Homo sapiens: one gene and its partner. The protein of the gene in region 2 interacts with the protein of the main gene of each other region in a pairwise test. Each region holds a gene or a part of one and is shown on either strand. Other genes may lie near its edges.

Region 1 (3,752 bases), on a different chromosome or scaffold from region 2:
CCAAGAGTCTCTAACAATTTTTAAGGTCACTAAAGCAAACATAAATTGAACAAAGCATTATAGAAGCACACGCTTTAAGGTAAAGGTAAGATTAATTGGCTAACGTCCTGTAAAAGTTAAACCCCTACGTTAAGAAGCTTGGTAATAATAAATATTTGGGAAGAATATTTTCTTGCTTCATTGTTAAGTTATTTGGTAGTGGAAAAAATGTGATAATTGTGGTAAAAATGATTGCTTGCACTGTACAAAATGACAGTGTCAAAACACAGCAATTACTGTTTCTAACAATCATAACTTGGTGAGGTGGCAGCAAATATTATTAAAAAGCTTTTAACTCTATTAGATTCTATGTACAATACCAAGAAGTATAATATCACTGCTCAGATTACATAATAGCAGAGATATATTAATAAATGGAACCTACAGCCATTTTAGAAAATGGCTGAAACAAAATGTCCTAGACTAGAGTAAAACCATGACAACGTATAAACACATCTCCACTGATAAAAAAATTTTCCACCTGACACAGCACTTTCAGCTTCCTGATATAGCTGTGTTTTTTTAAATATTAAAACTTCATACAAACCAATGCCAAAATTAACATAACTAACAGATTTTAACTTGAGATATCGGTTTCTTTTTTAGACTAGGAAATTTCACAAAAATTCATGTCAAAAAAAATTGATACATGCAGCAAAGGTTCTAAAAAGATGTGGAAACAGATGCTGGTGAGGCTGTGGAGAAGTAGGAACGCTTTTACACTGTTGGTAGGAGTGTAAATTAGTTCAACCATTGTGCAAGACAGTGTGGCGATTCCTCAAGGATCTAGAACCAGAAATACCATTTGACCCAGCAATCCCATTACTGGGTATATACCCAAAAGAATATAAATCATTCTACTATAAAGACACATGCACACATATGTTTACTGCAGCACTACTTACAATAGCAAAGACATGGAACCAACCCAAATGCCCATTAATAATAAGACTTGATAAAGAAAATGTGGTAAATATACACCATGGAATACTATACAGCCATAAAAAGGAATGAGATCAGGCTGGGCACAGTGGCTCACACCTGTAATCCTAGCACTGCGGGAGGCCGAGGCAGGAGGATCACTAGAGGTCAGGAGTTCGAAACCACCCCAGCCAACACGGTGAAACTCTGTCTCTACTAAAAGTACAAAAAAAAAATTAGCCAGGCATGGTGGTGGGTGCCTGTAATCCCAGTCACTTGGGAGGCTGAGGCAGGAGAATCCCTTGAGCCCGGGAGGCGGAGGTTGAAGTGAGCCAAGATTGCACCACTGCACTCCAGCCTGGGCAACAGAGCAAGACTCCACCTCAAAAAATAAAAAAAGTCATGTCCTTTGCAGGGACATGGATGAAGCTGGAAGCCATCATCCTTAGCAAACTAACACAGGAACAGAAAACCAAGCACCGCATATTCTCACTTATAGGTGGGAGTTGAAGAATGAGAACACATGGACACAGGGAGGGGAACAACACACACCAGGCCACTCGGGGTAGTGGGGCGAGGGGAAGGAGAGCATTAAGGTTAAATAGCTAATGCACGTGGGGCTTAAAACCTAGATGATGGGTTGATAGGTGCAGCAAACCAACATGGCACACATACCTATGTAACAAGCCTATACGTTCTGCACTTGTATCCCACAACTTGAAGTGAAATAAAAATTTTTTAAAATGTTGAAAATAAGAACATCAAAGCTGAGTCAAGTATCTCAGACTGGGGAAGTTTTTCACATATTTGAACTGTAACTCTTAGAGAACCGAGGATCAAACAATCACTTTACCATCACCAGGGTCCATAGTATAGCATTAGTTTAAGATGAATTTTATACTTTTACAAAACTTTGCAACTTTTAATTTCCAAAAGTATTTTGCACATGTCTTTTTATTTTCACAACCTGGAAGGCTACCAAAGCAAGGAATATTTTTGTTCCGATAGTTGAGAACATTAAGATACAAAACAATCAACAAACTTGCTCACTGCTACAGTGAATACCAAAGGTGACATCTGGACTAGTTTAAGACTCTTTCCAATATACTAGATATGTGACAGAATCAACTTGAGTATGTCTTAAAAGCACAGCTGCCTGGGTCTACTAATCACAGCCTCTAGGGGTGAGGACACATGCATCCACACTTTTTTTAAAGCTCTCTAAGCAATTCTTACATCCACTGAAGTCTGAGAACCAATGCAACAGATCACAGTACCAAGTGCAGGGTTGGAACCCTATCCTAGCTCTATCTCAGCCAGCCCACAGAAAGTCTTCTGAAATTAATTGGCCACGGTGCACTTGGCTCCTTTGTTAACAGTCATTGGTGCCAATGGTGGTGAAAATATAGTGTGGTTTTTAAAGCCTCTAATCATAGCATGCCCAAGAATCCAAAACATGGGGTGATTACTCAATAAAATCAAACTTTTTCTCAGCGGGTTATCATGATCACAGCACTTAATGGCAAATCAAAGATAATGAGGAGGGGGGGAACCCCAAAGAATTTCACAACCTGACACATCCATTTTAGTAAAGGAAATTACTGACAAAATTAGGAATTTGAAAAAAAGTACAATGAGCTAGGTCTTTATGTAATAAGATGGGAGGTTCTCCAAGACACACTGCTGAGTTAAAAAAAAAAATCAAGTTGCAGACCAACACATACATATAAGACCGTTTATGATATAGAGACACACACAAATCAGTATTTTGTCTATGAGTGAACAAAAAAGCATATACAAAGGTCTAGAACTGCACTGTCCAGTACAATAGTGACTAGCCACATAGGGAATTTGAATTTAAATTACTTTAAATTAAATTAAATTAGAAGTTCAGTTCTCAGTTGCACTAGCCACACTTCAAGTACTCAATAGCCCCCTGCTGCTAGAAGCCACTGGACTGGACAGCACAGATACAGGACATTTCCATCATCACAGAAAGCTCTATTGGACAGCACTGGTCTAGAAAGATATAAACTCCTAAGGGTAGTGGCCTGGCTGGGGAATGGGGGTTTAGGCAAAGTTGGGAGTAGGAGACAGAACAGGGATTGAAGAACTTCTGCCTTATCTGTCAATTCTGCTTAAATTTCCTTTTAATTTTTTTAAAAGCACTTGTCATTGCTGTATAATTTAAAAATCATTAAAAACTCAAAAGGCATATCTTTATTAAAGATATACATAAATACACAGGAAGCCTGAAAAAAAATGTAAATATCCCACTAGAAGCTCTGCATTAATGTGTATGGAGTATTAAAAACATCCCAAGGTTGGCTGCGAGCGGTGGCTCATGCCTGTAATCTCAGCACTTTGGGAGGCTGAGGCGGGTGGACCACAAGGTCAGGAGATCGAGATCATCCTGGCTAACATGGTGAAACCCCGTCTCTACTAAAAATACAAAAAATTAGCTGGGCGGGAGGCTGAGGCAAGAGAATGGCGTGAACCCAGGAGGCGGAGCTTGCAGTGAGCCAAGATCGTGCCACTGCACTCCAACCTGGGTGACAGAGCGAGACTCTGTCTCAAAAAAAAAAAAAAAAAAACCAAAAAACAAAAAACAAAAACAAACAAAAAAATCTGAAGGTTTTGAAAAGAAATGTAAACAAAAAAGCCAGGCATACCTGATCTAACCAAAGAGGTTAGTGTTTGAGGAAAGATACCCTCTCAAAATGGATTAAGAGAATTCAAATGAAGAAAAAGGGGCAGCCTGCAAGTACAAACTAGAAATTAGATGGGCTAAA
Region 2 (3,752 bases):
CTTGCACATATACACGCGCACACACACACACTTAGGTAATCATGTGAGGTGAGGGATATGTTAAGCGCTTGGCTGTAGTAATGATTTCAGTATATACATGTATATTACAACATCACGCTGTATACCTCAAATATAGATAATTTTTTTTTTGAGACGGAGCCTCGCTTTGTTGGCCAGGCTGGAGTGCAGTGGCGCAATCTTGGCTCCCTGCAAGCTCCGCCTCCTGGGTTCAGGCCATTCTCCTGCCTCAGCTTCCCGAGTAGCTGGGACTACAGGCGCCTGCCACCACACCCGGCTAATTTTTTTTCTATTTTTAGTAGAGATGGGGTTTCACCGTGTTAGCCAGGATGGCCTTGATCTCCTGACCTTGTGATCCGCCTGCCTCGGCCTCCCAAACTGCTGGGATTACAGGCGTGAAAATATAGATAATTTTTTTAAAGGGCTGTCAGTCCACATCACTTCAGATAAATGCAGACTGTAAGAATGTTAAGTGGTACACAGTAGAAAAGACTTCTAGAGGCCTAGACACTGATAAATCTAGTCTTATACATTTACAAATAAGCAGAATACCCTTTAATTCTAGAGGCTTGGGGAGGACGAAAGGGACGACAGAACTTTGAAAAGCAGCTGTTTAACACTAACAATAAAGGGGAGAGAAGGGCAACGAGGGGGACATTAAAAAGACCGAGTTGGGGTGTGGGAGAAAAAGATGAGAGTGAAGAAGTAATTAAGCAGCATCAGTAGCTACTATTCTGACAATAATCCCCGTGTCAGATAAGGTGCTGTGGGCTCTCCTCCTTCTCCTTCCTCCCCTGTGGGCTCTCCTCCTTCTCCTTCCTCCCCTGTGGGCTCTCCTCCTTCTCCTTCCTCCCCTACTCTAACGGCCTGAGTGTCCTTTAGTGTCAGGTCCTAAGAGTGCCATTATGGAGAAGCCGAGAGACAAATGCCAAATGGGAGAAGAACAAACTATGAGAAGGATGTGGGCCAAGTGACCAGAGAGCCAGACCCCAGGAGTCTCCCAACGCTTCTACCCAGCCCACACCCCTGGTCCTGCTGACAGGCAGCTCCTGTCTATGACTGCCAGCCTTCAGCCGGGACCTGCACCCTGCTTTGGGCTTACAAGTGAGGTCCTTGCTGTTTAGAACAGACATTCAATTCTTGGCCCAATGTGCTTACAGAGGAGACAGGGTTCAGGAATTGTTAAAAAATAATGGGAGACTACCTTCTTATTTAATTTCAGATCAGACATAAATACCCTTAATTCCCAAATTATTTCCCATTCCACACATTTCTCTTCTGCCTCAGTATTTCTATTCATAGCCTAGTCAAACAGGAAGTTAAAACAGTGAATGCAGAGGTCTTAAACCAGCAGGATGAGCCACATCCCATCCACATACACGTTTCTGGCTCAAGATTTTAAAACAAACGTGTTAGCTGCTGAGATGTTAAAATCAGAAGGTGACAAATAACCAAGACTTCTCATCTCTCTGAAGATGTGGAGATCAGAACGTGGGCTCAGCTTCCCTGCAAATGCAGTGATCCACGGGCGACAGCAGGGGCCCTCAGCCTTCTGCAGCCTCCACCGCCCATTCTGCTTTTACTTTACCAACCCAGCGTTTGAATCTGTGACTTCACACAGATAAGTAAGACTGAACTAAAGTTAGAGTTAATGACCATCTACAATTGAATCCAGGTTTGCTACTAGTGAATAAGGGCAACTGCAAGCAGTTCTTTTGAATAAAATCTATTTTCAACTCAATGACCCAGAGTGGTATTGTGAGGTAAGAAATAGCCATCTGGTCTGCGTCCCTAGTTCCCGGCACAGAGCTCCTAAAACTCTTGTAACTTCCTGAATGTTAGGTGTGCAAGGTGTATCTTTTGTTCTGATATTTGGTCTCTGACCCTGGCTCCTGACACAGATCTCCTAACCCTTGGAATTTCCCGGGTGGTAGGAGCATCTTTTGTTCAAATGAGGTGACTCCTGGTGGGATGGGGGCTGGTCAACAGAAGGACCAAGCCAGGATTAGAAGCTTGGAACTTCCAGCTCCACCTCCCATTCTCTGGAAAGAAAAGTGGGGCCAGAGGTTGAGTTAATAATCAATCATGCCGGCCAGGCATGGTGGCTCACACCTGTAATCCCAGCACTTTGGGAGGCTGAGGCAGGTGGATCACCTGAGGTCAGGAGTTTGAGACCAGCCTGGCCAACATGGTGAAACCTTGCCTCTAATAAAAATACAAAAAATCAGCCGGGTGTGGCGGTGGGCGGTGGGCTCCTGTAATTCCAGCTACTCAGGAGGCTGAGGTGAGAGAATCACTTGAACCTGGGAGGCGGAGGTTGCAGTGAGCCGAGATTGTGCCACTGCACTCCAGCCTGGGCAACGAGAGCAAAACTCTGTCTCAAAGAATAATAATAACAATAATCGATCATGCCTATGTGATGAAACCGCCGTAAAAATCCTTGAGCTACAGGAAAAGAGATTCTGGGGTGCTGAACATGTAGGGGCACCTGGGGCAGGGGGGCATGGAAGCTCTGCGTCCCTTCCCCATGCCTCGCCCTATGCATCTCTTCATCTGGCTCTTTATTTGCATCCTGTAAATTGAGCTTTGTAATAAACTGACAGTAGTAAGTAAAGTGTTTCCCTGAGTTCTGTGAGCCGCTCCAGCAGATTAATTGAACCCAAGGTGGGAGTGGTGGGAACCCCCTTGATCTGACTCCAGGTAGACAGTGTCATGACTGTAGGACACTCAGCTGGTGTCTGCTGCACAGCTGCTTGGTGGGTGGGGCAATCCTCCCTTCCCATGCTGTGGTCACAAAACTGTTCTGTGTTGTGCTGAGTGTGGGAACAGCAAAAACAGTTCGGTCTTCCCTGTCTCTCCCACTCAGCCATGGGCGGGCAGGGTGGGACCTTGCACCCCTCTCCTCACCTGGTCCTTGGTAGGCCTGGGGGTGGCCGAAGGCAGTGTCCCAGTTGTTGGGAGTGTTTGTGTTTCTTTGGGCTCCAGCCCCCTCTGGCTGGGCCCCCCAGCCTTCTGAGCTTTCCCAGTTCCCAGATTTGGAGGCACTCCAGGCTGACCAGGGGTCATTGCCACTGCCAACCTATTGAGAGGGGTAAAAAGAAGGAGAATTTTTGTGACTTTTGGAAACCATGACTCAATTCAATAATGAACTGACACAATTGAATACAACAGGAGTACTAAAAACAATTAATAGAAATGTATTCAAAACAATTTTACATACATAATATTTTAATTTCCAAACATGTAGGAAAGCACAAAAGGTAGCATCAATCTAATTTTACTGATGTGAACACATTTTACCGTATTTGCTTAGGAACTTTGAAAACAGCAACAAAGAAACTATTAGATGCAGCTACAGCCCTCTCTTTCTTTCTCTCCAGAAGTAACCACTACTTTTCTGAACCTGTATCCATTCCTATGTGTGTTTTCATACTTCAGCTGCACATGTACACATTCACAAACAACTGCTTTATATTTTTAAAATTGACCTAAAGGATGTCATACTGTATGTATCTCTTTGCAAGTTTTCTTTTTCCCACTCAACATGAGGACCTATTTCTAACTGCTTTATAGCGATCTGTTGTATTTTTAAGTAGGCTTTTTAATTTGAAATGGAATACATGTATAATAAAAAAAATTCAAACAATAAAAGTATATGCAATTTGAGAAATACGCCTAACATCCTGAGATGCTAGTCATTCTAAGGAACTACTACTGTCAAAAGACACAAAATT

What was found.
Region 1: the proteins of SNX9 (region 2) and OCRL interact in binary tests that used the Homo sapiens proteins (3 or more experiments, as listed by UniProt).

The regions. Positions count from the first base shown.
Region 1 is NC_000023.11:129,571,166-129,574,917, reverse strand, and holds part of OCRL (inositol polyphosphate 5-phosphatase OCRL), read right to left. Parts: intron 1-3,752. UniProt on the Homo sapiens protein: Catalyzes the hydrolysis of the 5-position phosphate of phosphatidylinositol 4,5-bisphosphate (PtdIns(4,5)P2) and phosphatidylinositol-3,4,5-bisphosphate (PtdIns(3,4,5)P3), with the greatest catalytic activity towards PtdIns(4,5)P2.
Region 2 is NC_000006.12:157,896,172-157,899,923, reverse strand, and holds part of SNX9 (sorting nexin-9), read right to left. Parts: intron 3,098-3,752; coding exon 2,926-3,097; intron 1-2,925. UniProt on the Homo sapiens protein: Involved in endocytosis and intracellular vesicle trafficking, both during interphase and at the end of mitosis. Required for efficient progress through mitosis and cytokinesis. Required for normal formation of the cleavage furrow at the end of mitosis.